3 separate regions of the Homo sapiens genome follow, and regions 2 and 3 are each linked to region 1. Evidence: fine-mapped expression QTL. A gene starts in region 1. Each other region holds a variant in brackets. All regions are shown on one strand. Distances are from middle to middle.

The links.
Region 2: its variant is fine-mapped to the expression of ZNF71 in monocytes after interferon gamma (Fairfax 2014, PIP 0.95).
Region 3: its variant is fine-mapped to the expression of ZNF71 in esophagus muscle (GTEx, PIP 0.96).

The regions. Positions count from the first base shown.
Region 1 is chr19:56,590,666-56,601,177 of GRCh38, forward strand. ZNF71 (zinc finger protein 71) reads left to right here and starts at 4,637. Exons shown (of 4, transcript NM_001370215.1): 1 at 4,637-4,763. ZNF71-SMIM17 (ZNF71-SMIM17 readthrough (NMD candidate)) reads left to right here and starts at 4,637. Exons shown (of 5, transcript NR_163263.1): 1 at 4,637-4,763. RefSeq lists a silencer at 4,599-4,988.
Region 2 is chr19:56,635,908-56,646,419 of GRCh38, forward strand. SMIM17 (small integral membrane protein 17) reads left to right here and starts at 7,252. Exons shown (of 4, transcript NM_001193628.2): 1 at 7,252-7,303; 2 at 9,661-9,929. The coding sequence starts at 9,761. ZNF71-SMIM17 (ZNF71-SMIM17 readthrough (NMD candidate)) reads left to right here. Exons shown (of 5, transcript NR_163263.1): 3 at 9,661-9,929. RefSeq lists silencers at 2,094-2,388, 2,186-2,397. The variant G/T (reference allele first, on the strand shown) is at 5,679.
Region 3 is chr19:56,617,950-56,628,461 of GRCh38, forward strand. ZNF71 (zinc finger protein 71) reads left to right here. Exons shown (of 4, transcript NM_001370215.1): 4 at 3,319-6,537. The coding sequence ends at 4,808. All of the region lies in intron 2 of ZNF71-SMIM17 (ZNF71-SMIM17 readthrough (NMD candidate)), which reads left to right. Among named protein-coding and RNA genes, the nearest start is that of SMIM17, 20 kb to the right of the region's middle. The variant G/T (reference allele first, on the strand shown) is at 4,940.

The DNA.
Region 1 (10,512 bases):
GAGATTCCATGTTCATGGGTAGGATGACTTGGTATTGTTCAGATGTCAGTGCTTCCTAACTAATCTATAGACTCAACCAATCCCAATCAAAATCCCAGCAAGTTATTCTGTGGATATTGAGAAAGTGATTATAAAGTTTATATGAAAAGACAAACATGCTCAGAATAGCCAACACAATACTAGAGAAGAACAGAGTTGGAGAGCGGATACTACTCGACTTCAAGACAGAGCTATTGTAATCAAGACAGTGTAGTGTTGCCTAAAGAATAGAGAAGGAGCAATGGACCAGAATAGAGATCCCAGAAATAGAACCACATGAATATAGTCAGCTGATCTTTGTCAAAGAAGCAAAGGCAACTTAATGGGGAAAGAACAGTCTTTTCAACAAACAGTGCTGGAACAATGGGATGTCCACATGGAAAAAACAGACACATTTTTCACAAAATTAACTTAAAATGGATCATAGATTTAAATGTAAAAATGCAAAATTATAAAACTCCTAGAAAGTAACAGGAGAAAATCTAGGTGACCTTTGGTTTAGCAATGAGTTTTTAAATACAAGATTGAAAAGCACAATCCAAAATAATTTAAAAAAAGAAAAAAAAAGCACAATACATGAAAGAAAAAAATTTATAAGTTGTTCATTAAAATTAAAAACTACTCTGTGGGCCGGGTGCAGTGGCTCACACCTGTAGTCCCAGAACTTTGGGAGGCTGGAGGCGGGTGGATTACCTGAGGCCAGGAGTTCGAGACCAGCCTGGCCAACATGGTGAAACCCTATCTCTACTAAAAATACAAAAAATTAGCCAGGTGTGGTAGCAGGTGCCTGTAATCCCAGCTACTCGGGAGGCTGAGGTGAAAGAATCGCTTGAACCCGGGAGGTGGAGGTTGCAGTGAGTTGAGATCGTGCCACTGCACTTCAGCCTGAGCGACAGAGGGAGACTCTGTCTCAAAACACAACAAAACAAAAAACAAACAAAAACTTCTCTGTGAAAAAATACTGTTAGACTTAAAAGACAAACCACCATTGGGAGGACATGTTTTCAAAACACATAGCTGCTAAAGGACTTACATACAAAATATACAAAGATCTCATAAAACTCAACAATAAGAAAGCAATGCACTTGAAAAATGGGCAAAAGATCTAACAAAAACTGCAAAGAGGATATACAGATGGTAAATAAGCATGGAAAAAGATGCTTACCATCATATTACCATCATATGTCATTAGGGAATTGCAAATTAAAGCAACAAGATATGACTACACACTTATTAGAATGACTAAAATCCAAAAAGAACTTTCAATATCAAATGGTGGCAAGATTGTGGACAGCAGTTCTCATTCATTGCTGTGGGTATGCACTTTGGAAAACAGTTTGGTGATTTCTTACAAAGCTAAACATACCCTTGCCATATGATCTAGCAATCACACTCCTGGGTATCTGGCTAGGATTTGGAAAAACTGCTCTCATAAATTGATGCCAGGAATGTAAAATGGTACAGCCACTCTGGAAAACAGTTTGACAGTTTGTTAAGAAGAAAACTAAACATACTATATGACCTAGTAATTACATTACTGAGCATTTATCCCAGAGAAATGAAGAGTTATGTTCACACAAAATCCTGTAATAAGAAAACAATTACCAGTGGGAAGAGGCAGCTTACTAATTGGGAGGAAATATTTGCAAACCATATATCTGATAAGGGGTTAATATTCAAAATATATAAGGAACTCCTTCAGCTCAATTACACTAAAAAACAAATTACCCGATTTAAAAATGGGCAAATGACTTAAGTAGACATTTTCCCAAAGAAGACATATAGATAGCCAACAAGTATATGAAATGATGCTCAAACATCACTGATTATCAGGGAAATGCAAATCAAAACCACAGCAAGATATTACTTCATCCCAGTTACAATGGCTATTCTCAAAAAAAAACAAACAAACATAACGTGTTAGGCTGTGGAGAAATTGGAACCCTTGTTTACTGTTGGTGGGAATGCAAAGTAGTGGTGCTTCTTGGAAAACAGTTTGGAGATTCCTCAAGAAATTAGAAGTAGAACTACCATATATTCCTGCAATCCCCATCTGGGTATATGGCCAAGGAATTGAAACTAGGATCTCAAGGAGATCTCCAGGAGGTTGCAATGAATAATGCACTTCCATGTTCATTACAGCATTATTTACAATAGCCAAGAGATGAAGACAATGTACATGTCCATTGACAGATGGACAGATAAAAAAAGTGACACACACAGACACATACACACACAATGGCATATTTTTAAGCCCTAGAAAAAGAAATCCTGTCATATGCGACAACATGGATAAACTTTGAGTACATTATGCTAAGTAAAAGAAGCCAGTCACAGGACAAATACTTTATGATTCCACTTACATGTGGAATCTAAAATAGTCAACCTCATAGAAACAGAAATTAGAATGGTGGTTTCCAGGGGCTGGGGGAGGTGAGAAGACGTTACTCAACGAGTATAAAGTTTCTGTTATGCAAGATAATTAAGTTCTCTCTATACAGCAACTTGAATATATCTCCAGAGAATTGTGCTGAATGAAAAAAGCCAATTCCACCATTCACATACTGTATGATTCCATTTGTATAACATTCTTGAAATGACACAATTGTATATATGGAGGATAGACTAATGATCGAGTCTGGAGGAAAGTGAGTGTGGCTATAAAAGGGCAAGATGAAGGATCCTTGTGGAAATATCGGAAGAGATCCTTGTGATGGAAATGTTCTGTCTCTTGAATGGACCGACGTCAGTATCCTACTTGTGATATTGCAAGATGTTGCCCTTGGGTGAAATTACCTAAGAGACATAGGTCTCTCTGTATGATTTCTATATTATGTTTTACAACCTGACGTGAATAAATCCACATTTATCTCAGAATAAAATATTTCATTTAAATACATCATTAATCACCACCTAAGGCTAGCTGCTGTTGATGGTTTTGTGGCCACTTGGACATTCAGCAAATGTTTTTAAACTTGGCTTTGTGGTTTACTATAGAAAAGGGTCTCAGCCAGGCATCTGGTTCCTACCTTTCCTCTTGTGTAAGCTCCCCTGTCTGTATTACCCAACTAATCTGGAAAGTAGCTTGGCTGTGAAGATTGTTTATAAATCATAAAATGTGGAGACCAGGGGTCAGAACAAAGGAAACTCACAACAAGGATTAATGCTTTTTTTCTTATATCTAAAGATATAGGGAATTGACATTTAAAGATCTAGTTGTTTTTTATTTGCAATTCTAGAATCCAGCCACACCTCCTTCTATAAAATAGAACTAGTGTTCTGGTGATCCAAGCAGAGGAATATGGCTTCATACACAGAAACGGGCTGAGGAAAGCAGAAACAGAGAACAAGAGTGGATGGGTCATTTCAAAGTTACTTTCCCTATCATGGTTAAAGCAAAGGGGATTTCTTTTATCATGCCTGCTAAACTGGCCTGTTTGGGACTTGGCTATTATCTCTCTCTTTCTCTCCTGAGAGGAGGTCAGGTAACAACTTAGTTGGAGTTGGTGGCCTGGAACTTCAGCATGAGTAGCTCCATTTCGATTTGATCTGTTGGGCCTAGTGCAGGAACTCAGTCCAAACCGATAGTCTCCTATACATTTTATTCTACACCTATGCTCATTTTCTTCTTTGCACATCTGTATGCTTAAAAAGTGTTCTTTAAAGATAAGCATGATTATCAGGTTTAAAGTTGCCTGGGATGGTCCCTCAGGCCAGTCCATTGGCTGGACTGCAGAAATGTCTGCAGCAGATGTGACACGCCTCTTTTATCCCCCTCATTTCTCTGCCTCCACCCATCCCTTGTCCTTTTCTGTTTTCCTTCCTCCCTCCTCCCTCTCCTTACCCATTCTTTCCTCTCTTCAGCCTGTCCTGCCCTCCCCAACTCGACTTCCTCTTTCTTTCCTCCTTTTCCCACCCTTTTCTTCTTCCTTATAGTCCTTTCCACCTTCTCATCCCCCTTTCCACCCTTTCTTCCTTCTCCTCCTTGCCGTCTCCATTCTCTTCCTTTCCTGCCTCCCTGCCCCTCCCTCCTCCCACCCGCTCCCTCTTCTTTCTGTTGGTTCCTCTCCTCTCTGACCTGTTCTTTTCCCTTAGTCTCTCCCCAGCCCTTCCTCCTTCCCCTCCATCCTTCTTCCAACCCCTCCTCCTTCTCCATCTCTTCTTCTTCCTCCCCAGCTCTCCTCCCCAAGTCCCTCTCCATCCTCTCTCTTCTCCCCGCTCCTCCCCATCCCTCCTCCCCTTCCATCCTTCTTCCCACCTCTCCTACTTCTTTTCTCCCTCCTCCCCCCTTCCCTCCTGTCCCTCCTCCTCGCCCCTCCTTTCCCTCCGTCTTTCTTTCCACCCTTCCTCCCTCCGTCTCTTCTCTCTCCTTCCCTTTCCCTGCCTCCTCCCCCTCAATCCTCCCTCTCGCCCCAGCCTCCTTGGCCGCGGAGTCCTCTGTGAGATGGAGGAGCTCAGTTGGCTCCGCTCGGCTCCACTCGGCTGGGCTCGGCTGAAAAAAGCCGGGGGGAGGTGGCGCGCGCGGGTTTCTGGGAAGCGTAGTCCGGCGCAGTCCGCGCAGGCGCACTGCCGTCGGGCGGGCCTAGCGGGCGCGGTCATTGTCCTGGCAGAGCGGCGAGCCGGTGAGTGTGGCTGCGGGGTCGCGCCCACCCTCTACCTGTGCCGGGGGCCGGAACCTGGCCCCGGGGAGGGCGCGGCCTCGGGGAGACGGCGTGCAGGCCCAGGTACGGGGAGTGCAGGGCTGGGTGCTGGTCCAGGGCGTGCGGGCGCAGGAGAGGGCGTGCAGGCCGGGACCGAGGTGCGCCTGGAGAGGCTGAGCGGCCGAGGAGAGGCTGAGGGGAAGCTGAGGGGCTAAGGAGAGGCTGACTGGAGGCTGAGGGGCTGAGGAGAGGCCGGGGCCAGGGAGGGAGAGGCGTGAGTGGGTTGGAGGTAGGAAAGTTGCATGAACACGAGGGCCATCCTGGGGGGAAGGTGGCCTGTGTGAGAGACAGGCAGTGCATATCATCCTGAGGATGAGGCTGTGTCTTTGTGGATATTGTGAATGTGTCTGTGTGTGTGTCTGTGTGGGTCTGTATGTGTGTGTGAGACAGATTGTGTCGTCCTGAGGGTATGGCTGTGTCTCTGGATATTGTGATTGTGTGTGTGTGTTTGTGTGTGTGTGTGTGTGTGTGTGTGTGTGTGTGTATGAGACAGAGAGAGAAACTGCGTGTCGTCCAGAGGCTGGGTCTGTGAATGAATGTGAATGTGTCCATGTATGTCCGTGTGGGTCATGTGTGGTAGCGTGTGTGTGTGTGTGTCCCACTTCTTCAGAGTCTTGGTCTCTCTGTGGAGCTGTGTCTCTCCAGGTCTCTGCCTATGCATGTGTGGTGATATCTCTGAGTGACTGCCTGTGTCCTTGTCTTTGGTGTTGTGGGTGTGTCAGCCTTGATCTCTGTCCATGAGTGTCTCTGTGGGAGGGTGCCCTCTGGGTGTCCACTATGTCTGCTCTTTCCATGCATGTCTCTTGGCATGAGTGTAGGGCTGTGTCTTTCCAGGGGCCAGTCCTGTCTGGATCTTTCCTATCTCTGTGTGTCCACCTGTGTCTAGAGTATTTCTTGATGTTTGCGTGTGACTCTGCAGGGGTGGGTGCGTCTGGGTGTGCCTCTTCCAAAGACTATATGCCTGGACAAGGGAGCCTAGCAGAGCCACTACCTTCTCACCCTACGCTTCTCCTAGTCTGCCTGCCCACAGTTCCCTGGCTTTTTCCTGCCCATAGAAGGCTCTGGAGGCGTAGGGGCCTGGGAGTGACAGGGGCCGGGTGGAGGAGGGGAAAAGGAAGGCTGTTTCTTCTGCCTCCCACAGGATCTTCTTAAAGTGGGATCAGACTCCCAAAGGGTCTCTGTGCCCTACTCTGTTCTGACCAAGGAGAGGTTGATTTGTTCAGGGAATGTGTATGCAGCCAGTGCTGGCCATTTATAGATGTCCCAGTAACTCTGAGGTAGAGACCATCATCATCCTTATCTTACAGATGGGGAAACTGAGTCTCAGACTAAGTGACTCACCCAAGGCTACCTCAGGCATCCAGGTTCCAGAGCCCCCACAATTAACCACCAGACAAATGGGAGATCCCTTTTTTCCCTTTCCGCTCAGCTGACACAAGGTTGCAGGATTTTCCCCGAGGGAATCCCCGCTTGGAAACAATGGAAATGGAAGAAAGGAAGGAAATGCCAAAAAGCTCAGAGGAAGAAGAATCCAGATCTAAGGCCAAACTGGGTTCAACAGCCACTGGCCATACTCTTGGGCAAGTCACTTCCAGGGCCGCTGCATGATTTTTAAGGGTACTTTGCCTTCATGGGCCCCTTGCTCCATTGTTTTTTTAAAGCACTAAAAATTACATTTTGTTATTTCATTAATAGGAAGACAAATGTAATCTAGGCTGGATTAGATATTTTCTTATGATTTTAAAAGAAATTAAGACCTTCCTATGGGCCCCTAAAGGTTTCATGGGCCCCATGCTCTGTGCCTACTGGGTAAGTGGGCTCTGGTCACTGCTGTGATCTGGCAAAATGGGCCAGTGTTCTTGACCTCACAGGACAGGGGTGAAAGAGACCACTATCTGCAAGGAATTTTTTTTTATATTAAATTGTGTTTCAAAAATGTTGATGGTAATATGAAGTTTCTACACCCAGGGAAACAATTCAAAGGAAGAGAAAGAAAAAATAATTAATAACTTCTACCCCCTTCTCATTCCCACTCCATGCCCTCCAGACACCAACCCAGCCTCATTCCACAGCCTTCCCCAGGCTGGAAGATGCTGTACAGATGTGTCCACATCCACATGTTTTGGTTTGTTTTTTCACAAAGGGGCTAAAGGTATGCATAAAACTGGGTAACTTGCTTTTCTCACTTAGTGAAACCACAGACATGTCAACAGATGCAGAACTAACTCTGCTTCGCAGAGGCGACCTGATACTTCATACTATGGAGACCCTACCCTCGATTTGATTCCTTTAGTAATGTTTATTAATTTTGTTTTCAGGGTTTTTTTTTGCCTCTAGAAACAATGCTGCCATAAATATCTTTTTTTCCTATATGTAACTTTTACACGGAGCTTTTATTGGTGTGGGCAGATTCCCAGGAACAGGGTTGCTGGGTTATGGGATTTGTGTATTGCCAGCTCACTTTCCAGAAAAATGTTGAGCGACTCACATTCCCTCACCAGTGTGTGAGAGGGCCTGTTCCTTTCAATCCTGGCCAGCACTAGAAGTTAGCTCATCTGTTCATTCAGCTTGATGTCTAAGTGCCTCCTGTGTGTTAGACGTTGTCCTAGATGTCGGAAATACAATCTGAAAGTGATCATCCCTGCTCCCTGGGGGCTTCTGTTCTCATGGAGGGAAGACAGATGACAAACTTGAAAACAACTATTTTAAAAAAGACAGTTGTCAATAGTGGTTTGTACTGCAAGAAAATAGAGGGGGAGAGAGTTGCTGCTTGAGGTCAGGTGATTGGGGGTAGAGGACTTCTCCAAGGAGGTGACGTTGGAGCTGACCAGGAAGCAGGGGTAGTCATGGGAAGAGCATTCCCTCCAGAGGGAACAGCAGATGCAGAGGCCAGGAGGCCTGGGGCCAAGCATGGGAGAGGGGAGTAGAGGAGATGGAAGGGGAGAGGCCATCAGGGGCACATCATAAGGGCTATGTGGGCAGCAGTGAAGACTTTGAGTGATTTCTAATGGTGGGGGAAGCCAACGAAGAGTTTTGAAGAGTTTTAGCCCAGAGGACATTTTCACTGAGTGATTACAGTTGGCCAGGTGTGGTGCCCGGGTACAGGCATTAAGTGGTAGGAACCCCCAGCCCACACCTTTGTGATCCTTTTGTTCTACAACAGGGCTTCTCAACCTCCACACTACTGACCTTTGGGCCTGATCATTCTTTGTTGTGGGGCCTGTCGCGTGCATCGTACAGTGTGTAGCAGCATCCCCAGTCTCTACCAACTAAACGCCCATAGCACTCCCCTGCCAAATTATGACAGTTTGGCAAATGTCTCTAGACGTTGACAAATGTCTCCGGGGGCAGAATTGTTCCCGATTGAGTTCCAAAGGCTTCTGCCAACTTGGCCTTATATATATGCCCCCCTACAATTAAAATTACTTTTCACTTGTGGAAGTTGGGGCCATTTGGCCTAAGAAAGGCTCTTCTTTGTCTTAGTGGTTCTTACGCTTTAAGACGTGTCAGAATCACCTGGGAAACTTGCTTAGAAATACCGATTCAGGGGCCCTACCCAGGTAGTTTGATTCAGAGGATCTGAGGTGGGGGGCAGGAATATATATTCTGAGTGAGATTTTAATAAGCATCCCCAGTGATTCTGGTACTTTGAGAATTGGTGCACCAGCTACAAGAGCATTGTGTTGGAGAGGATTGAGGCTTTTCTGGGTGATCTTGAAGGGTTGGAGATGTAGAGAGGCATGTTTCTGTTTATAGCAGAAGAAAAACTCATTTCCAGTCAGAGGTGTTGGTGGCACGGGTAGTGAGCCCCCATCACGGGAGAAGCCAGGACTGAGCCAGCATGTCTCAGACTCCAAGAATTTGTCCTCATCTGTGTCATGGATCCTATTTTTTTACTTTGCCATTTACTTGATTTGGCTCACTGATTTTTTTTTTGTTTTTAATTTAAATCAACTTAGTTTAAAAGGGTATTCTGTGTGACTGCTGTAAAAGAAGCTGAGTTTTGCTGTAAGAAGGGAAACAAACTTTAAAACAAATTGAAGTAAAGCCAGGTAGTTCTAATGAGATATTATGGTCACCCTAACTTTGGGGCCTGAACCCTGCTTTTCTTTTTAATTTTAATTTTTAATTTTTCTGGGTGTGTAGTGGGTTTATATATTTATGGAGTACATGAGATATTTTGATACGGGCATACAATGTGTAATAATCACATCAGGATAAATGGGGTATCTGTCACCTCAAGGATTTATCCTTTGTGTTACAAACAATCTGATTACATTTTTAGTGTTTTGTTTTTTTTTTTTTTTGAGATGGAGTCTCGCTCTGTCACCCAGGCTGGAGTGCAGTGTTGCCATCTCAGCTCACTGCAAGCTCCGCCTCCTGGGTTCATGCCATTCTCCTTCCTCAGCCTCCCGAGTAGCTGGGATTACAGGCACCTGCCACCACACCCGGCTAATTTTTTGTATTTTTGGTAGAGACGGGGTTTCACCGTGGTCTTGATCTCCTGACCTCGTGATCCGCCCGCCTCGGCCTCCCAAAGTGCTGGGATTACAGGCATGAGCCACTGCGCCCGGCCAGTTATTTTTAAATGTATCATTAAATTATTATTGATCATAGTCACCCTGTTGTGCTGTCAAATAGTAGGTCTTATTCATTCTTTGTGTGTGTGTTTTTTTGTTTTTTTGGGGTTTGTTTTTTTTTTTTTTTTTTGAGATGGAGTCTCGCTCTGTTGCCAGGCTGGAGTGCAGTGGTGCAATCTTGGCTCACTGCAACCCTCTGTATTTTTTTTTTTTTTTTTTTTTTTGAGACGGAGTCTCGCTCTGTCGCCCAGGTCGGACTGCGGACTGCAGTGGCGCAATCTCGGCTCACTGCAAGCTCCGCTTCCCGGGTTCACGCCATTCTCCTGCCTCAGCCTCCCGAGTAGCTGGGACTACAGGCGCCCGCCACCGCGCCCGGCTAATTTTTTGTATTTTTAGTAGAGACGGGGTTTCACCTTGTTAGCCAGGATGGTCTCGATCTCCTGACCTCATGATCCACCCGCCTCGGCCTCCCAAAGTGCTGGGATTACAGGCGTGAGCCACCGCGCCCGGCCCTCTGTATTTTTTTAATACCAATTAGCCATCCCCACATTCCCCCCACCCTTCCACTACCCTTCCCAGCCTCAGGTTTCTTCATCATTCTAGTCTCTATCTCCATGAGTTTGTTTTAATTTTTAGCTCACACAAGTGAGAACTTGCAAAGTTTGTCTTTCTATGCCTGGCTTATTTCACTTAACATAATGACCTCCAGTTTTATCCATGTTGTTGCAAATCACAGGATCTTATTCTCCTGCTTTTCTTTTGTTTCAAGGGGCGAGTGATGGGTTGCAGGGATGTTAAGATATCTCTCCACTTGAGACTTTATCCTGAGCTTGTCAGGAGAACTGGAGGAGAATTGAATCAAGATGCATTTCTCTAGGCGAATCTGGCTCTGAGAGCCCCTGGGTGGAAGTTCCTTACACTCATATCTGCTAGTTGAACCTCATGGTAACCCCATGAAGTCTGGGGGAAGTGCCCAAAGAGGCCACAGGTGGTTCTGGGGCATCTCAGGGGGCCTCAGTCCAGCACTCACACTCAAGGAGGGATCCGGGCAGGGCCATTGGGAGAAGGCAGGGTGTCCGGTGGCCCTCAGCAGCCTGCGGGAATGTGTGTGAGTGTATGTGTGTTAACCATATCTATAGGAGTGTACATGGGAGTGCATCTGTGAGGCATTGTAGCCTGGAGGCTAAGCTGTG
Region 2 (10,512 bases), 45 kb after region 1:
CAGCTCGCTGCCCTTGTATGATTTACCCCATACACCCCCAAGTGATTGTATCCTTCTAGGTTTTAAATAACAAGGTGAGTTTTCCCATTTCAATCATACTTCTTCCCCTTGCAATCCCACCTTAAATAAATGGAAAATTTTTTAGTAGTAGTGAAACAAGAAGGTCTTTGGGGACATATCGCTCTGGGTTTAATCCTGGATATGCCATTTACAAGCTGACCTGCCCCAGGGTGTCCGAGGCTCCCAAATGATCACAGTTTGGAGATGGCCACGTACACTAGATACATCCACACAATGTGATTAATTCCCTGCAGTTGCCAAAAAGCATGAAATAGATTCCTCTCCTTGTGGGATGGTCCCTACTGATAGGATTCCCTGCTTGGTGCCACAGAACCCTGCCTTATGGGCCACAGCAGATGTACCAGAGGATAGAACAACAGGTCACTGGCCCATGAAGTGGTCTTATGGCAAAGTCTTACTCAACAGGGGTCTGTGATCTTGGATGTCTCGATCTGGCAGATCATAGACTTCATCCTGCCAACTGACGAGCACAGTTCAGTTCAGGTCACGTCACTCATTTTCCTTTTAATTTAATGAATTACCATCATTAAAACATTGAGATAGTTTACATTTACAAACACCGTTTTTCATTCATTCGACTGTTTCAAAACAACATTCATGGGCCATCTGGTATGTGCCAAGACACGTTCCAGGTTCTGGAGGCTCAGAGGTAAATTAGAAACACACAGCCCCTACCATCATGGGTCTGTACCATTTTAGAAACAAGGCAGACAGTAAGCAAAAAGAAATATTCATAAAGTAATGAGCTCCAGCTTATTTTGAGAAATTGAAATATCAAAACTCACTGGGCCAGCAACTCCATTAGAGGACATAATAGAAAGATAGTGAAGAGCCATATCACAGTGGTTCTAGGTAAACAAAGAGCTCAAAGTCAGAGCCTCAAAGCTCTCTGGCCCTTGAAAAGTTGTGAATATCATCCTATTAGGCATACAGGATATGCTTCAGGCATACTGGGTGTCACCTGCAATGTCCAGCACGTAGTGAGTGCTTTATGAATGTCTGTCTCTTGAGTGATTGTGGAAGCTGTGCCTTTTCTGGTGACCAGATCATTGGGAAGAACACTTATTCATCCATTCAACAATTCCAGAGAGATTTGATTTTGTGAAGGACTCACTCTTGCAGAGGGTGTACAATTCAAAACCCACATAATTCAAGACTAACCCTGACAAAAAGATGGTGGGTGTGTCTATTCACCAGCTAAAGCGACACTAAAATAACAGTCACAGTTTACAATGTATGTGATTGGTTGTATTTGGAAGCATGAGAAACTGTAGCCATGCTGCATTTCTGTAAATCTACAATAACATCCCTCTTGTGACCCCAGCTTGCAACATAAAAAATAGCGCTTTGCCGGCTGGGCGCCGTGGCTTACGCCTATAATCCCAGCACTTTGGGAGGCCGAGGCGGGCGCATCACGAGGTCAGGAGATCGAGAACATCCTGGCTAAGACGGTGAAAACCCGTCTTTACTAAAAATACAAAAAAGAAAAAAAAAATTAGCCGGGCGTGGTGGCGGGTGCCTGTAGTCCCAGCTACTCGGGAGGCTAAGGAAGGAGAATGGCGTGAACCCGCGAGGCGGAGTTTGCAGTGAGCCGAGATCGCGCCACTGCACTCCAGCCTGGGCGACTGAGCGAGACTCCATCTCAAAAAAAAAAAAAAAAAAAAAAAAAAAAAAAAAAAAACCTAGGGCTTTGCCAATAACTCGCATATATTTATATAGCCCTCTCCTCCCCACTCCACTGCTTCTCCCAACCCAGAATAACCAACAGCCTGAATCCGGGGCATACCTTTCTCTGAATTTCCTTTCTGTACTTTCCCCCTCTTCAGAGCTTTTTGGGAAACTTCATGTTAATAATTTCAATCCGGTTCAGCCAGGCCCTGCTGTCCTAAGAACAAAAGCTGTCACTTAAAAATGACTTTGCAGTTGTTGCCCTCATCTGTTTTCATCCCATGATCTCTACAGCCCAGAGATCTTTGTTTCCAGGAAACAGCAGGGCTTTCCCCAGGCGGATGGGTTCTTTGAAGGAGGGGGAAAAAAAAAAGTCTTCTCCAGCTATTCTGTGTAGAGCGTCAGCACCACCGAACGCTAATGCTTGAATGGTTTAGAACTGCGGACAGCTCACGCCAGACAGATTCAGCACCACGGACAGCCCCCAAGGCAGCTCGTGATGTGAATGGTTCAGCACCGCAGACAGCTCAAGCCTCGCCGGACAGCCCTGCTGGAAGTGGTTCAGCACCACGGATAGCCCCGCTAATATCCATCAGAACCCCGGGCGGCTCAGGCCAGAATGGTTCAGCACCACAGGCAGCCCCCCAGGCTCGCAGGACAGTTCCCCCCAGCCTCGCAGGGTAGCCTGTGCTGGGACTCTTCCGGTATCACGAAGAGCCCTGCTGGACTGGTTCTGCAACATGGATAGGAACAAGTGTCATTTCGCCATCACCTGTGCTAGATGTAGACGCTCTTCTGAGCTGATTCCTGAGCCCCCTCTGCAACTTTCACCTCTGGAGACTCTGATGGGGCTATCTGGGTAATCCAGGCTCTTCTGGAGTTGACCTCAGAAATGCAGGCATCCAACAGTTAATATGCCCAAAAGGGAACTCTGGATTTTCCCCACAAAATAAACTTGATCTCACTTAGGGCACTTCAGGGCACTCAGTTGCTCAGGCCCAAAGCCCAGAAGTCTCCCTTGATTCGTCTCTTTCTGTCACACCTCGCACTCCACCCATTAGTGAGTCCTCTCAGCTCCACCTGTAGAGCAAATCCTGAATCTACCCACTGCTCTCCATCCCCATTGCCACTGCCTTACTCCAGGCCACCGTCGCTTCTCACCTGGTTTACTGCAAGAGCCTCCTAAGTGATCCTCCTACTTTACCGCCCCTTCTAGTGCATTCCCCACACAGCAGTTTCAGTGAGCCTTGGAAAATGTAAACCAGAGTCTATCATACCATTCCTCAGTACCTGCCACTATCTCCAATACACCTATAATAAAATTCAAAGATCTTCCTGTGGCTTTCATGACTCTGGATGCCTATCTTTTTTTTTTCCTTTTGAGATGGAGTCTCACTCTGTCGCCCAGGCTGGGTACAATGGCGTAATCTCGGCTGCAACCTCCGCCTCCCGGGTTCAAGCGATTCCCCTTCCTCAGGCTCCTGAATAGCTGGGACTACAGGCGCGTGCCACCACGCCCATCTAATTTTTGTATTTTTGGTAGAGACGGGGTTTCACCATGTCGGTCAGGATGGTCTTGATCTCTTGACCTCGTGATCTGCCCACCTCAACCTCCCAAAGTGCTGGGATTACAGGAGTGAGCCACCGCGCCCGGGCGCCTCTCTATCTTACATCCCATGACACTCTCGCTTTCCTGGTCACACTGGCCACACCACCTCCCTGTTGGTTCCTCAGGGCCTTTGCCTCTGGTGTGCTCTGTCCATGGTGCTGAACTCATTCAAGTGTGGATTCAACTATAACTGTCTCCTTTCCACCATTTGGTCCTTAGCTCAAAATATGACCTTTTCTAAAAGGCCTTCCCTGACCATCCCCACCTAAAGTGGCTTCAAAGTTACTATCACAGTGATTTATTTCACAGAATTTAGTACTTCACAGAATTTAGCACAAACTATATTTCATTTTGCATTTATTGGTTTACTTGACACTGTCTGTTTTCATCATTAGAATGTAAGCTCCATTAGGCCACAGACATCAGTTGCCTTAGCTACCCGGAACAGCATCTTCACATGGCAGTTGTTTAATAAATATTAGTTGTATGAGTGAATGAATGAATGAGTGGATGAATTCTCAGCCCTGCATTAATTTTTCTTTTCCTGGCTAGTCATGGAGCCCCAAAAAGATGTCAACAGCACTTACCTCCTGGTAAAATTGTGGTCCAGGGTTTGTGTTGGGGTCCCCAAGATCATCCGCAGGTTTGATGATTTCCTGGGAGGAGGACTCAAGAGAGACTCAGCACATAGTCATACTCACGGCTATGATTTACTACAGTGAAAGTATACAAAGCACAATCAACAAAGGGAAAAGGCCCATGGGGATAACACATCTGTACTCCAGCCCTTGGCTTGCTATGAGGCTATGGCAAGACAGAGAATGTGTTATGTTACAGTAGGATAATGAAGAATTGGAACCAATAATTCAATCTACCACACGTAGTGGTGGCATATAGCTATAATTTTTTAATCGTGATTTTATTTCCCTTTTAGGTTATGGCACTTGAAACTGGCTTTCCACTTATAGGAGTGCTGTAAAGTTTCCATTTAAAGGTACTTCTTAAATGGTTTTAGAAAATGAATTCATTTTAAATAAAAATATTAAGTAAATAGGAATGCAGGGATGTTATGTGTAAATGAAAGCAATCATGAAGATGTTACTCATTGCTGCAGAAACAGGGCAAACATTGAAAAAGGGTGTTTGAGAGGTTGAAGTTTGAGAAACATTAAAGACATAAAACAGGATTCCAGACACTTTCCCTTCATTGTTTTCTTCTGTTTAGGGAAGAAATCACCTCTAAGGGGTCACTCAGTAACATTCCTTTCGGCCAGGCACTGTGGCTCACGCCTGTCATCCCAACACTTTGGGTGGCCGAGGCAGGTGGACGACCTGAGGTCAGGAGACCAGCCTGACCAACATGGAGAAACCCCATCTCTACTAAAAATGCAAAAATTAGCTGCGCATGGTGGTGCAAGCCTGTAATCCCAGCTACTCGGGAGGCTGAGGCAGGAGAATCGCTTCAACCCGAGAGACGGAGGTTGCGGTGAGCCGAGATTGTGCCACTGCACTCCAGTGTGGACAACAAGAACAAAATTCCGTCTCAAAGAAAAAAAAATTTGTTCCCTCAGAATTCTGGGGAAGCCCCTCAAACTTGAGTCCATTTTGAAACAACCATAATTCATCTGGACTATCAGGATCATAACTGGAGATTTTTACCCCATATTGAGGACCTGCTGTTCAATAATTATAATGATAATACCAGTGACATTTACTGAGCACTCAAAATTAGGAGGCATATGTATTAACCTATATGATGTTCACACTAACCCTATGAGGTAGAAAATATTATTGTCCCCATTTTGCAGGTAAGGAAACTGAGACCGAGTTAATTCACTTCCCAAAGTTATACAGCTAGTACATTGTTAGATCTGCATCTGGATGCCCAGTTCCTAACCCTCTCAAGACTCTGTGACCTGGGGCAGCTCACCTGGTCTCCTGCACTAAATGTCTTGTTATCAAAGGAGGTGATGAGGATTGGATGAAATGTCTAATTCTTGACACTTCATCTCTCTTCTCTGCACACTCTGAACTATCTTTGGAATGGCAGGAAACTCATCTTCTAAACATAGAAATGAAGAAAGTTTCCCATCCCAATTACATAACCTATCTGAAAACTCGTAGGCAAACCCAATCTCAGTCCTTCCATAATCTTACTGTGTGTCCTTTGTACAACTCATTTAACTCCTTTGTGCCTCAGTTCTCTTCTCTGTTAAATGGGGATAATAATACTACCACTTTGGGCTGTTGGAATTAAATGAGATAATATTAACGAGATGGCTTTCCTTGTAGTATTTTTTTGATAAATGACAGTTATTTTT[G/T]TTTTTCTGAATAACCAGGGTAATTCAATTTTCTATCCATTAGGGAAAGGAGGTTAAATCCTTACCTCATACCATTCAAAAAAATTCCAGAAGGTTCAAACAAAATAAATATATAAAATAAGACTGTAAAATATAAGATTATACAGGAAAATGTGTTTATGAGAGTAAGGGGAGGCCAGGAGAAGTGATTCATGCCTGTAATCCTAGCACTTTGGAAGGCTGAGCTGGGAAGATCAGTTGAGGCCAGGAGTTTGAGACCAGCCTGGGCAACATAGTGAGACCCTGTTTCTACAAAAAATTTAAAAATTAGCCAGGTGTGGTGGCACATGCCTGCAGTCCCAGCTACTCAAGAGGCTGAGGCAAGAGCATCACTTGAGGCCAGGAGTTCAAGGCTGCTGTGAGCTATGATCACACTACTGCACTCCAGCCTGGGTGACAGAGTAAGACCTTGTCTCAAAGAGACAAGGAGGGGGAGGAGGGGCGGGGAAGAGAGGGAGAGACAAGGCTGAGGAAGGGCATCTTAAGACCCTAAAAGCAAAAAATAAATAAATAAATAAAAAGGATATCTTGTATTTTTATTAAAATTCAAAACTTCAGGCACTGTGTAAACACAATAAAAACATAAGGGAGGAGCCAGGAGAAAATATTTGCCACAGATAGAGTAACAGGCAAAGGATTAATGTGCAGAATATAGAAAGAATGTCTATTAATCAGTAAGTAAAAGCTACATAAACAAATAGAACAATGCGGAGAGGAGGAGATAAACGGGTAATTCACAGAAGAGAGAATAAGCCTGTTCAAATACATGTGTTTAATTCTCCTCACTAGTAATCAGGGAAATGTAGCTAAGATGATGCAGGGACGCCGTTTTCCCCCTACCTATGGCTTTGCCGAAAATTTTAAAAATTTAATGTAGCCTCCATGAGAGCAACTTGGCTGTAGTCACTGCATTGTAAATTTGAACAACAATGGTCATTGATAATAATAGCAGCTATTAGGCACTGTTGTAAGAACTGTACGTGTATTACTTATTATTGTTATTATTGTTTTACTTTCACAGAAATCCTGGGACTTGGTAACCATAATTATTCCCACTTAACAGCATGGGCAACCGAGGCACGGAAATGTTAAGTAACACACCCGAGGACTCACTAGTAACAAATGGCAAAGCCAGCCGCTGCCCCAGGCGGTCGGGCCTCAGGGTCCCCGGGCTGCCACCCCCTGCCCCAGCTCCTTCTCCCTTCCGCCCACCCCGGACTCCCGGTTTGCAGACTGGAGAACCACGGGGGGCGTACGCAAAGCCGCTGGCCTTGGGGCGTCTGTCGCAGGGTACCTCGAACATAACCTACGTGCTCATCAGCTAGAGATGGACCAGCTCGGTACCACACCCCCCTGCAACCACGCCGCGGGTACCCCGCCTCTGCGGCTCATCCACTCCCTTCCCCACGCGCCTCCAGGTGCAGGCTTCCCGGGGGTGGAGGAGGGGAGGAGGACACCCACGCTCCCCAATTCCCCCACCTCCCATCTCCCACCTCCCCCCACCCCCCCGCAGCCTCCGCGTCTGCGCAGCCGCAGTCAGTGCGGCGCCAGCTCTGCAGAGCCCAGACAGGGTCCGGTTGGGGAGGGTGAGTCCTTCGAGGGACCCCCGCGGGCGGGAAGGAGGCGGAGAAAAGGGGCTGGGGGCGCGGGCGGCGATCCGGGGATGCGCGCGCGAGTATGGATGCGCAGAGGGTGTGTGTGCCTGGGCGAGGGTGAGGGGCAGAACCGCTCCAGGGATAGGGTCCGGGGAGAGGGCGTCTCCAAGCCCGTCCGGTGGGAGAGGACCGGGGTCTGTCGGGGTCGGGTCTGTTTCTCCGCAGCGGAGGTCTGTGTCCTGGCTTGGGGGTTGCAGGTGAATTCCAGCCTCCTCGTGAGGAGGGGAGCACAGACCTGTGTACCCTCGTGGGGCGGCACGGGCACGTGCGCTCGTCTCGCTGGGGCTTGGTGTCGATGTTCGCTCCCCCTGGGGTGTTCAGCGCACCTGCCCGAGTGTGCACCTGTGCGTGTTCGCGTTGTGTGTCCGCCTGGGCCCCTGTGGACCACCCTGCAACGGTGGGAGCGCAGGCTCTCAGCAAACAGGTGCAGCAGCCCCGCCCCCACTCTTCTGAGCTGTGTGGCTTTGATCAGGGGACTTCCCTGTCTGTTAAATGGAAACCTAATAGTATCTGTAGCGAGAAGTATGGCCACCTTTATGTGAGAAAAGGGATTCGCAGGGCTCAGCAGGGCTGGGCACAAGGAGAGTTCTGGGCTCCGGGAAACACTGCCGGTATTTTTATTGCTTTTACTGTGGTTGCTGGTTGTCGTTGTTGTGACTGCGTCTCCATTCTCTCAGGGGATGACTTGTTTGCTATTTCACCATGAACACTGAGGCTGTGGGGTGTGAATCTCCTCCCCCCACCATACCTCTGTCTCATCCCCTTTCCTTCTTCCTCCTCCATTCACTGCGGATCCAGCTTCTCCTGACCTTGACCTGATGGCTGTCGTCTTTCCCATCTGTCACCCCGCTTGCCTGCATTTTCTCCTTTCTCATGCCTTCCCCTCCCCTCAACCTAGATCCATGATTAATTATGTCTCATATTAAAAACAAAGCCAAGCAAAACCCCAAAGCAATAAACAAATCAGAACTCCCTAATGGTACTCTCTAACACTCTTTCCCACGAAGGTCCCATAGGAATTTTCTTGCCCTGAAAAATGTCTAGGCAGCCTCCTCTCCTCACTCCCAACAGACTCCCCGGCCCACACTGAGGTTGCAAATGGGCAACCCCAGGGTCTAATTCAGCCCCACAACTTGTGCTATTTGACTAAAGGTGTCTTCCTGTTAAACACTGGAAATAATTATTGACATCATGAAATGTAGAAAATGCCATCTGAAAATATAGATTTCCAGTCTTCTTTTGAGAAATCACAGGATGGGCGACACCAGTCCCATGCGTTTGCTCTGCAGACATTAGCTGAGTTGCATGGTGCAGCTTCTTCAGACAGGAGACCTGATCTCTCTTGCCCCACTCCCCACTGCCTCCGTCGTCTCTCCCCATGCCATATATCCACTGCCATTTGTTCATGTGCTCCTTACAATAGAGAAGTATTTCTCTGGACCTATATTTAATTTTCATTTGTAGAAAAGTGACAGTAAAAGAGTCCTCTTGATTGACTCATTGATTGATTTTTGAGAGAGTCTTTCTCTCTTACCCAGGCTGGAGTGCAGTGGCACGATCCTAGCTCACTGAAGCCTTGAACTCCCAGGTTCAAAGGATCCTTCCAATATCTGAGACTACAGGCTCGTGACACCACACCTGGCTAATTTTTAAACTCCTGGGCTCAAGCAACCCTCCCACCTTGGTCTCCCAAAGTGCTAGGATTACAGGTGTGAGCCACCTCGCCTGGCTGATTTATTTATTAATTCATGTCGTTTCCTATCCCATTTGTTATATACAAATGTGCAGACTGGAGAATCATGTGTGGCTGTAGGTGTGTATATGAGTATGTGAGTGTGTATGTGTGTGAGTATGAATGTGAGTGTGTGTGACTGTGAGTGTGTATGAGTGTGTGTGTTAGTCTATGTGAGTGTGTGTGAATGTGGATGTGTGTGTGTTTGTGTTTGTGTTAGTGTGTGTGTATGTGACTGTGTGTCTGTGTGTGTGTATGTGTGGATGTGTTTATGTTTGTATGTGTGTATATGGGAGTATGTGAGTGTGTGTGTCTGCATGTGCCTGCCCATGACAATCACTCCCTTTCCAGCTTTGTCTCCAGAGCACCCTCTAGCGTTTGACCTGCTGTGTGCTTTATTTGTTCCCTGCCTGTCTCTTTGTCTCCCTACTAGAATGTAAGCCCCAGGAGGGCAGGAATCTCCACTTGATTACTGCTGTATTTCTAATGCTTACAGTCGTGCCTAGCCCCTGCTGGCCCTCTGTAATGATTCACTGAATGATGAAATGTCCATCAGTCCTCAGGTTCTGAATCTTGTGCCTGGAGAACCAGAGAGGACCCTGGAGCAGGAGGAGAAAGAGAAGCTTGTCTCAGAAGCTCCACCTCCTCCTGGGGCAATGCAGAGTCTCAGGCCTGAGCAGACACGGGGGCTGCTGGAGCCTGAGAGGACCAAGACTCTGCTGCCTCGGGAGAGCCGGGCCTGGGAGAAGCCTCCTCATCCCGCCTGCACCAAAGACTGGGAGGCTGTGGAGGTTGGGGCCTCCAGCCATGACAGTGATGAGAAAGGTGAGAGGCAGGGGTCCTTTGGGAGGTGAGTGGGTGGAGAGGAAGGAATTGGCAGAGCCTAGGGAAAGACTAAACATTCACTCCTTCACTCATCCATTCAACAGCTATTCATGGAGCACTGTGTCAGTCAGCTTTTGCTGTGTAACAAGTCATCCCCAAACTTAGGGGCTTAAAGCAACAATCACTTATCAGCTCATGATTCTGTGGGTCAGAAGTTTGACCTGGCTTCAGGGGACACTTTTCCTGCCTGTGCTTGTCTGTGCAGCCTCAGAGAGCTGGTGAGGCCACTGGTCGATCTCAGATGGCTTTACCCCCATGTCTGCTGGTGCTGGCTGTTGGCTGGCTTGGTGGTGCTGAGGACAGGCCATGTGTCTCCAGCAGGATTTTTCAGGGTTATCCTCATGGGGGTGCTTGCAGGGTTCTCAGGGATGGCAAGAGAGGGAATTCCCCAATTTTCAAGCACTGGAAGATTTGAAGAGGAAAAACACATGATCTCATTTGCATTTCAAAAATATTCCTCTAACTCAGTGGATTTCAACTGGGCGTGGTCTTATACCCCACTTCTCCTCCCCGGACGATTTTT
Region 3 (10,512 bases), 27 kb after region 1:
GAGCATCTCAGACTCCATCAGCCCCAGACAAAATTCACCATCACCCCTGGAGACAGTCTTCTCTCCACCGAGTCTACACCCCACACTACCATCTGTGCCAGCATCTGGGCATTGTGCCACACCCTGACTAGGGTCTCTAAACCACAATCATTCTCCTGCATGAAGTATTTCTCAGTTCTTTTCCTCTGAGATGGGAAAAGTGATGCATGGTAATATAGCCACTCCTCAGGAGCCACAGCTCGGGGGCCACACTGCCAGGGCTTGAATCCTGCTGTGCCTCAGGTGTATTGTGCCCTCGAGTACATCTCTGACTCCATTCTTGTATCTCCGTTTCCTCATCAGCAAAATGAGGATGGTCATAACTATCTACTACTGTATGTAACTCAAGTATGATTGTGAGGGTCTCCAGAGATCCGTGCAAATTGTTCAGCACTGTGCCAGGCGTGTTGCCAGTGCTCCATACTCGCTTATCTGGTACCTTCTGTGTGCAGGCTGTGTGAGGAGCTGGGGGGTGAGCAAGGCCCTTGCCTCTAGTGGAGCTGACTCCTGCTGGGGGCCGATAATAATCAGATCAAGGGACAGGCAGAGAAAAATTGCCACAGGTCACTGAGTGTTCATAAAGAAGTGGGCAGGAGGACCTTCCTTCCTTACGTAGGGTGGATTGGGAAGGCTCCCGTGGGGTTGTGGGGAAACAGGCCTGAAGGATAAGGACGTCCACGGCAGGTCCACAGGACAGTGGATGCAGAGGCCCTGAGGCAGGAAGAACACACGGACAAGAGGGAGAGCATGGTGATGAGAAACTGGGAGGGAGGGTGGGCAGGGGACGACTCAGGCAGGCCTGCTGGGTGCTGAGGGCCCTGAGGCTGCTGGAGGTCCTGGCATCATTCTCAGTACCGTAGGGAGGTCACGGGAGGGTTGATCTGACTCCTCAGAAGACCGCACTCCCGGAGGAGTGGAGGACGCATTGCAGGGGTGAGAATGGGGTGGGGAGGACAGAGAGGAGCTGCTGTCGCATTTCAGGCAAGGACCCGTGGTGGCCAGCCGGCTTTTTGTCAGTGGGGACCGGGAGATTTGGTCTGATTCAGGCTGTTTGCGCACAGCAATGCTTGCCAGCAGTCAGGACGGTGGGAGGGAAAGGGCAAGTCAGGATGTCTGCTAAGTCTCTCTAAAACAATTTTTTAAATTTTATATTTAAAACTGTGAAAAATATATAGAGAACATAAAATGTACCATTTTAACCACTTATAGGAGTACAGTTCAGTGGCCTTAAGGACATTGATGTTGTTGTGCAGCCATCACCGCCATCCATCCCCACAGCTCTTTTCATCTCCCGCAAATGAAACCCTATCCCCATTAAACACCAACTCCCACCCACTCCTCAGCCCCCGGCATCCTCTGTTCTACCGTCTGTCTCTGGGAATCCGACCTCCAGGTACCGCAGATGAGTGGAATCACATGGCATCCATCCTTTCATGTCTGATTTATTTTACTAAGTCTCTTTGATGGGCTTTGCTTTTTTAAAAAATGTTTTTCATGGGGAAAGTCTGAAATCCCAAGTTTCGTATCGGATGTGTTAGGCTTGGGCTATCCAGTTGAGATGCTGGGCTTTTTTGAACAGTTTGGACATAGCCCAGAAAGCAGGTCTGGGCTGAAGGTGTATGTTTGAGCAGCATCAGCCTGTGGATAACGTTTAGATCCAGACTCACTTTGTGTGGCTTTGAAGGTCCAGTGTGATTCAGGAGAGTGGTCTCAAACTCAGGTGGCCTCAGGAACTACCAGGTGGATCATTTATGTGGAGGAGGGGGACAGCTGCTGCCCCATGCAATGTCTTGTTGCCCATAAGAATGAGGCTCCACGTGGCCATATCTTCATGTTTTTTATGAGCTAGCAGCCACATGGACAGCAACTTTTAAATGCTGGGAATGAGTCCCCTGATGCAGAGTCTAGACTCCACCTAGGCTAGAAATCGAGGTTTAGAAATGAACAGGATACACGTGGAAGGTGATTGAAGCTGTGGGCACAGAGGTATTTAGCCAGGGAGGGTGGATGAGCAGAGAAAGAGGGTCTGAACCCAAGCTCCACGGAATGCCTGCCACCCAAGAACTAGGCAGCGTGTGACGTAGCAACAGAAGCAATTGTGAGACCCCAAGTCATGTGATTATTGTGGGCTCAAGTGAGCGGTCCTGTGTGTATGAACACTTAGTGCTGAGGCTGATGAGAGGGCTGGGGTGCGGGAGGGCTGGGGCCAGCCAGGGCAGGTGCGTGATGAGCTAGCGGGAGCCGGAGCCCCAGCCAGGGGAGAGGATCTTGCAGCCAGCAACCCTGGGGCAGCCATACCAGAGAAGTGGCAAAGGGGCAGGAGAAATGCCCGATTTTTCTCTCATTTCACTTCCAGTTTCCTGCCTTTGGCCAAACACACAGGAAGCCAGTGGGCAAAGTCAGCATCCTGAGCACAGGGCAGGTCAGAGAAGGGTGGAGAATAGAAAGTGGGTCGAAGGAGTAGAGAATAACCAACACATGCCATATAAATGCTAGCTATTTATTATTTCTTTATTCTTTTTCTTCTTTTTTCAATATTTATTTATTTATTTATTTTTTAAGAGACAGGGTCTCACCCTGTCACCCATGCTGGAGTGCAGTGACGTGATCATAGCTCACTGCAACCTCGAATTCCTGGGCTCAAGTGATCCTCCCACCTCAGCCTCTCAAGTAGCTGGGACAATAGGCATGTGCCACCATGCCTGGCTAATTTTTAAAAAAAAATTTAGTAGAGGCGGGGGTGGGGGGTCTCACTATGTTGCCCAGGCTGGTCTCAAGCAATCCTTGCCTCAGCCTCCCAAAGTGTTGGGATTACAGGCATGAGCCACTGTGCCTGGCCATCTTATTATTTCTGATAAAAACTGTTGCTTGAGGAGCACGACTGGTTGTGGATCTGCAGGATGAAGTGAGGAGGCCCTGCAAGTCAGTAGCCGGCTGCAGTCATTCCTACTCAGGTTTGCAGAGCCTGCCCTTTGCTCCCTGCAAGCCCAGCTCACTACTGCAGTTTCTCTCCAGGAGTGCCTGTCATCCCTCTTCTGAAGGGACATTTGCTCTCCCTGTTCACCTCCTGTGTTGACTCTGCTTCATAAACCACATTGGCCTCAGTTCCATGCCTCCCTCCTCCCTCCCTCTCTGATCCAAGGTTCTTCTTTGCTAACTCGCTCTGTGCCTTGGGCCTCATTGGGGTCGGTTTCATTTGCTCCTTCCTGCTGTGGAGCTTCCTCACTCCCAGCATCTTTAACTACATGTATTTGCATCTTCTGTTTTTGTTTTTTTCAGACTGGGAGACTAGACCTGAAATGAAAGAGTTGGATCCAAAGAATGACATTTCGGAAGACAAGCTCTCCGTTGTTGGGGAGGCCACGGGGGGACCCACGAGGAATGGTGCCAGGGGTCCTGGCTCAGAAGGAGTGTGGGAACCAGGCAGCTGGCCAGAGAGGCCGCGGGGAGATGCAGGTGCAGAGTGGGAGCCATTGGGAATTCCCCAGGGGAACAAACTCTTAGGGGGCTCAGTACCCGCATGTCATGAACTGAAGGCATTTGCCAACCAAGGCTGTGTCCTGGTCCCACCACGGCTGGACGACCCCACAGAAAAGGGGGCCTGTCCACCCGTAAGGCGTGGCAAGAACTTCTCCAGCACTTCAGACCTCAGTAAGCCCCCCATGCCCTGCGAGGAGAAGAAAACCTACGACTGCAGCGAGTGTGGCAAGGCCTTTAGCCGAAGCTCGTCCCTGATAAAGCACCAAAGGATCCACACGGGAGAAAAGCCGTTTGAGTGTGACACCTGTGGGAAGCACTTCATCGAGCGCTCGTCCCTCACCATCCACCAGCGGGTGCACACGGGCGAGAAGCCCTATGCCTGCGGGGACTGCGGCAAGGCCTTCAGCCAGCGCATGAACCTCACTGTGCACCAGCGCACGCACACGGGCGAGAAGCCGTATGTGTGCGACGTGTGTGGCAAGGCCTTCCGGAAGACTTCCTCTCTCACCCAGCACGAGCGGATCCACACGGGGGAGAAGCCCTACGCGTGCGGGGACTGCGGCAAGGCCTTCAGCCAGAACATGCACCTCATCGTGCACCAGCGCACGCACACCGGGGAGAAGCCGTACGTGTGCCCCGAGTGCGGGCGAGCCTTCAGCCAGAACATGCACCTGACCGAGCACCAGCGCACGCACACCGGGGAGAAGCCGTACGCCTGCAAGGAGTGCGGCAAGGCCTTCAACAAGAGCTCCTCGCTCACCCTGCACCAGAGGAACCACACCGGCGAGAAGCCCTACGTGTGCGGCGAGTGCGGCAAGGCCTTCAGCCAGAGCTCCTACCTCATCCAGCACCAGCGCTTCCACATCGGCGTGAAGCCGTTCGAGTGCAGCGAGTGCGGCAAGGCCTTCAGCAAGAACTCCTCGCTCACGCAGCACCAGCGCATCCACACCGGCGAGAAGCCCTACGAGTGCTACATCTGCAAGAAGCACTTCACGGGGCGCTCGTCCCTCATCGTGCACCAGATCGTGCACACCGGGGAGAAGCCCTACGTGTGCGGCGAGTGCGGCAAGGCCTTCAGCCAGAGCGCCTACCTCATCGAGCACCAGCGGATCCACACCGGCGAGAAGCCGTACAGGTGCGGCCAGTGCGGGAAGTCCTTCATCAAGAACTCCTCCCTCACTGTGCACCAGCGGATCCACACGGGCGAGAAGCCCTACCGATGCGGCGAGTGCGGGAAGACCTTCAGCCGCAACACGAACCTGACGCGCCACCTGCGGATTCACACCTGAGCGCCTCTGTGCAGGGCTCTCACTGGCGGTGCCCAGGACGGACGCCAGATGGCTGCGCGCTTTGTCAGCAGTGCTGTGAGAAGTTCTCCCCTGGGGTGGGGACTCGGGGTCAGGGGAGCTCAGGAATGTGG[G/T]GTTGTGGAGGGGCTGGCTGATCACACATGCCCCCTCCTTACTGAGCCTCAGAAAGCAAGCCCCTCGGTGTCTGACGTATCTGGGGACACTTCAAGGTTCACTGTAGCTGAGCCATGGCCGCTGGTAACAGACATCAGGGTTCCAGACTAGCCCTCTTGAGTAACTGTCCTAGAGCTGGGACAGGTCACGCCTGCCTCCACATCTCTGTTTCTTCAGCGGGAAAGTGGAGCTGGTGGAGGGGAGGGAGGAGACATCTCCCTCTTTGTCAGATACATCCTGGAGTCCAGATGCAGCTTGTCACCATCTGCATTTTCTCCGTGGGTTGGGAGCGTGAGGGCCTTCCTATCCCTCCACCCACCGTTTCCCTGCAGTGCACGCTGGCAGCCACCAAGCTAGGAAGTGGCAGGAGTTTGCCGGTTGTTTGTGAGGGGAAAAATTTTTTTTTCAGAGTTAGCAAATAACAGTAACTACTGCTTTGAATGCCAAAGTTTCTTAGAGTGGTCTGTTACGTTTTTTAAAAATAAAACTTTTAATTAAGGGAGACTATGTTATTTTAAACAGTCTTCTGTTTTGGCCAGTTGTCTGGTCAAAATCGGCTTCAGTGATTGTGGGAGGGGCAAGAAGGAAAAGAAACAGCAGCAGGTTTGATATTCAGAAAGAAATATGCATGGATTCAATAAGTATATACATCTGAGCACAGATTATTTTTATAGTGATTTTTGCAGCTAAATGTGAAGGCAACTGTCTTAAGTCCCTTCCTGCTGCTGTAACAAAAGACCTTAGACTGGGTAATTTATAAACAATAGAAATTTGTCACTCATGGTTCTGGATGCTGGGAAGTCCAAGATCAAGGCTCTGGCAGATTTGGTGTCTGATGGGGTATGTTCTTCATAGGTAGTGCTTGTGTCTTGATGTGTGTCTTCACGTGGTTGTAAACGGCAGACTTCCTCAGGCCCCTTATAAGGGTGCTAATCCCAGTCACAAGGGCCCTGACCTCATGACCTCCCAAAGGTCCTCCCTCTTCATACTGTTACATTGGGGATCAAGTTTCCAATATGTGAATACAGGGAAGCACCAACAGACCATATCAGTAACTTCGAGTGAGTTTCCTAAGGCCGACTGAAGCTCTGTTTACACATAAGAGTGTTCCCCAAAGTGCACTTTCTCTGGGGCCTTTTAGGCCATACTTTTAATTTTGTTATTTGATACTACTGGTTGCTAATGTTCTGGCATTTCCAGTTGTTCCACACTCCCTGACACTGGTGTACACAAATAAATAATACAGAAAAAAAATTATATCAGCAAGCACATTCTGCAAATAAGAAAAACAGCCACTCGGGCACGTATAAACAAGGTGGACCGTTTTTCAAATTCTGGCAGTCAAGTGGGCCTCAGGGTGGGTTTGATTCAGGCTCTCATCATTGGAGCCATAGCTGTGGTTCTCTGTGATGCTCTGGCTCTCCCTTCATACTTCTTAACATCATCCTCAGGCTGGCTTCCCACGTGGGATTGTGGTGGTTTCCAGCAGCGAGTCTTGATCAGACATTGCTTTAGTTGCATCTGTTGTGGGAATAAATGAGAATATGTATGCACTGCAGAGAATGGAGTGTTAAAACAGTCAACAAATGTTAGCTAATATGTACACAAGATTTTACTACTCTTTAGCAGCAAAATGGAGGGGAAGACCTTCTAAGGCCCTTTGGAGAGATGAAATGGCTCATTTAACCCTCACAAGATCCTCGAGGTAGGGATTCATGTGCATGTCGTATAGATAAGGAATCTGAGGTTCAGTGAGGCAAGGTAAGCTTCCTGAGGGCACACAACATGGAAGTGGAGGGGACAGGGTGTGAGCTGGGGTCCACCTGGGCTCCGAGGTCCGTGCTCCTTGCCTACACTGGACTACTTCTAGAGATGGACATATTGAATTTCTCAGGACTTGACTCCTGGCCTTGGTTTCCTGGACTCCCCAGTGTGTGAAGCAGAGATGGGATCGAGGCTGCACCACCACCATCCCCCTCTCCCATCCAGAGAACCAGCCGGGCCACCTCTCAGGTCCCTCCTGTTTCTTTTCTCTGCAACCCAAGCTGATGTGGAGGGCATTGAGGCTCCTCTGGGGGGATGCTGTGGTACCAGGTGGGTCTCACATCCCTGGTCTCCCGCCTCCTGGGCAAGCTCCCCACTCAGGGCTCCACGTTTCCCCAAGAGGAACCCTGAGGTGGCTGGAATAATGGCCACATTGACGGAGTCACTTGTCCAACTCTGAGGGGGCGCTCTCATCACCCCCACTCTACAGATGGGGAAACAGGCTCGCAGAGGTTCAGGCACCTGCCCAAGGTCACACAGCTGCTGGATTCAAACCCATTCTGACTCCAGAAGCTGGACTGCAGTCCACGGCACCACTCCACCCACCAGTTCCTCAGTCAGGTACTTACTGAAGCCAAATTAAATTTACCCCCCTGAAAATGTGGGTTTGGCAGGGATCAAGCAGGTCAGGAACCTGCTTTTTAACAAGTCTTCTATCCCATACATCTGTCCAAGGCACTATTTGGGGTTATGTGCTGGCCTTCGAGTTCACCCTCACTGGGCCCTGTGTCCCTGTGTCCCTGTGTCCCCAGGCCTGACCCAAGCCTGGCCTTGAGGTAGAGGTCATGGGTGCTGGGTGGGGTCTGAATGACCCCTTTATCACTTGGAGTAAATGCCAAACTCCTCACAAACCCCTGTGTGACGCAGCCTCTCCCAGCTCCCGTCCCGCTCCCCCTGCTCACTCTGCTTCAGCCACACTGTGCTTTCGTTCAGTCCCAGCGCTGGCCCAGCCCACTCCCACCGCAGGGGCCTCTCCCTTCCTGGCCCAGCACCCACGCTGAGCTTCCTCAGGTCCCTGATGCTCAGTTTCACGTGTCGGCCTGGCTGGGCTCCAGTGCCCAGCAGGCCCATCGCAGTGAGTCCCGGTGGTGCTGAGAAGACACTTTATAGATGTGGATGTCACCCATGTCAGCTGACTTTAAGTAAACGATTATTATCTGCAATGTGTGTGGGCCTCATCTAATCAGTTGAAGGCCTTAAGAGCAAAACCAGTTTCTTGGAGAGTAAAAAACTCTGCCTCAGGATTACAGTGCCAACTCCGGCCTGAGTTTCCAGCCTACCAGCCTACCTTATGGATTTGGGACTTGCCAGCTCCCACAGTAGCATGACCCGGTTATTTAAATTAAATCTATTTATATATAAAAGTATACATATGCCATATGTATAACAAGAAATATGAGGTATATAAAAGGATATGTATAAGATATATATAGGGTAGGGCATGGTGACCCACACCTGTAATCCCAGCACTTTGGGAGGCCAAGGTGGGAGGATTACTTGAGACCAGGAGTTTGAGACCAGCCTAGGCAACATAGCAAGACCTCATCTTTACAAAACGTTAGAAAAATTAGCCAGGTGTGGTGGCGTGTGCCTGTGGTCCCAGCTACTCAAGAGACGGAGGTGGGAGGATTGCCCGAGTCCAGGAATTAGAGGTTGCAGTGAGGTATGATCATGCCATTGCACTCCAGCCTGGGTGACAAGGGAAGACTCTCTCTTAAAAAAAAAAAAAGGTCAGTCAGTCAAGGTGGCTCATGCCTGTAATTCCAGCACTTTGGTAGGCCGAGGCAGGCAGATCACCTGAGGTCAGGAGTTTGAGACCAGCGTGGCCAACATGGTGAAACCCCATCTCTACTAAAAATACAAAATTAGCCGGGCATGGTGGCATGTGTCTGTAATCTCAGCTGCTTGGGAGACTGAGACAGGAGAATCACTTGAACCCAGGAGACGGAGGTTGCAGTGAGCTGAGATCATGCCACTGCACTCCAGCCTGGCCGATGGTATGAGACTCTGTCTCAAAAAAAAAAAATCTATATGAGATATATAATGTATATATAATAAATGCATAATATATATAATAGCATATATATGATATATCTATATGGGATATATATGATCTAAATAAGGCAATCTATATGATAGGACATATATAACTATATTAAGTTGTATCACTACTGCCTCTCTGGAGAACCCTAACTGATAACAAGGCCCTCCCTGATCGCCCTTCTTCCCCTGCTTCGTATTCCCCATCACACGCACTGCAGTCTGTATTGATACTTGTTTTCTTTCTTTACCATCCATCTCCATCACGGGCATTCAGGTAGAGATCTGGATGTTGCTGGTTCTGCTCACTGTTGTTTTCCCCAGCACTTGGCACGGCACAGGCACAGGCAGATAGTAGGTGCTCAGTAAATGTCCGTTGAATGAAAGAGTTAATGGTAGGTGCTCAATAAATGCTTCCCGGCTGAATCACGAATAAGCAAGTGAGTTTTCTGAGGCAGCAGCCCATTCCACCCTGGACCTAACATAGTCCCTGGAGACCTGGATCTGACTTGGATTCCTCAGCCTTTTGTCCACTGCCCCTGTCTGATTTAAAATGTAGGTTTTATTCTTATTCTGAGAAGGTGAGGCCCATAGGTCAGGAGACACCAGGGATTGAAAAGAGAGTTGCTACAGTTCCTGAGAGGCGAGGGCAGTGCCAGGCCACACAGGGAAGCCCAGGGCAGGTCAGGAGGTGGAGGGGCTGGGGGAAGACGGGGGCAGGAGCTTCTCTGTCGCTTCCACAGCAAGGAGCAGGATTGGCTTCTCTGAGTAATTTAGCGGTTCTGGGGCACAGGGGCTGCCCTTGTTGTCTGGTTCTCAGCCCTGGATGAGGGCAGGTGCACAGAGCCCCTGAGTGTGGGAGCCCAGTTGGGGAGGTGCTGGGTGTGGGCTCTGGATTGGGTGGTTTGCTTGTGAAAGGCACGCTCTCAAGGGGATTCTTTGCCGTCTCTAGGAATCACCTGGATCTGGGAGTGACAGTCCCTCCAAGGTCGGCAAGGCTTCAAAATGTCAAAGCATCAGAAAATAAAAGGCATTGTTCATACAATCTTTGCTCTAGCCAGAGATAATCCCCTGCATTTGGCCTTAGCATGGGCAGCCGGAGAAGGCTCTGGGCCCAGATCTTGGCTGAGGGGCAGCCTCAGGAGACCCAGGCTGCAGAGGGAAGGCCCTTCTGCTCCTCCCTGCCTGGACACCATCTTATTGTAGGAATCCCAGTCAGTACCCGGGAACCCAGTGCGCCTGCCCCAGAGCATGATGAAGGGGCCTCCTGGGTGGACTGATGCCCCTGGCAGCCGCAGATTCCTGGGCTGAGAATGGTCCAACTGAGAGGCTGGGCCTCAGCTCACAGCCTCAGATATGGGGGAGAGGAGGAAGGTCTTCCTGCAGAATCCCAGTGTGGTGGCAGTTTCCAAATTACATGAGATGAGCTAGGGATCCTCTCCAAGATCACAGACTTTTCTATGACCCCTGACAGGCCAGGCGTAGGGCCATGAACATGAGTGATTTGAGTCAAGCAGGTGCACTATCCAACACACACCTTACAGCCCTAATAATATTTTATTATACATACTATTATTTATTAATAGAAAGTTTATATTTGTAATAGAGTCTTAAATATTTATATAAAAGAGCTACATACATTAACAGGGCTTACATCATTAATATAGGG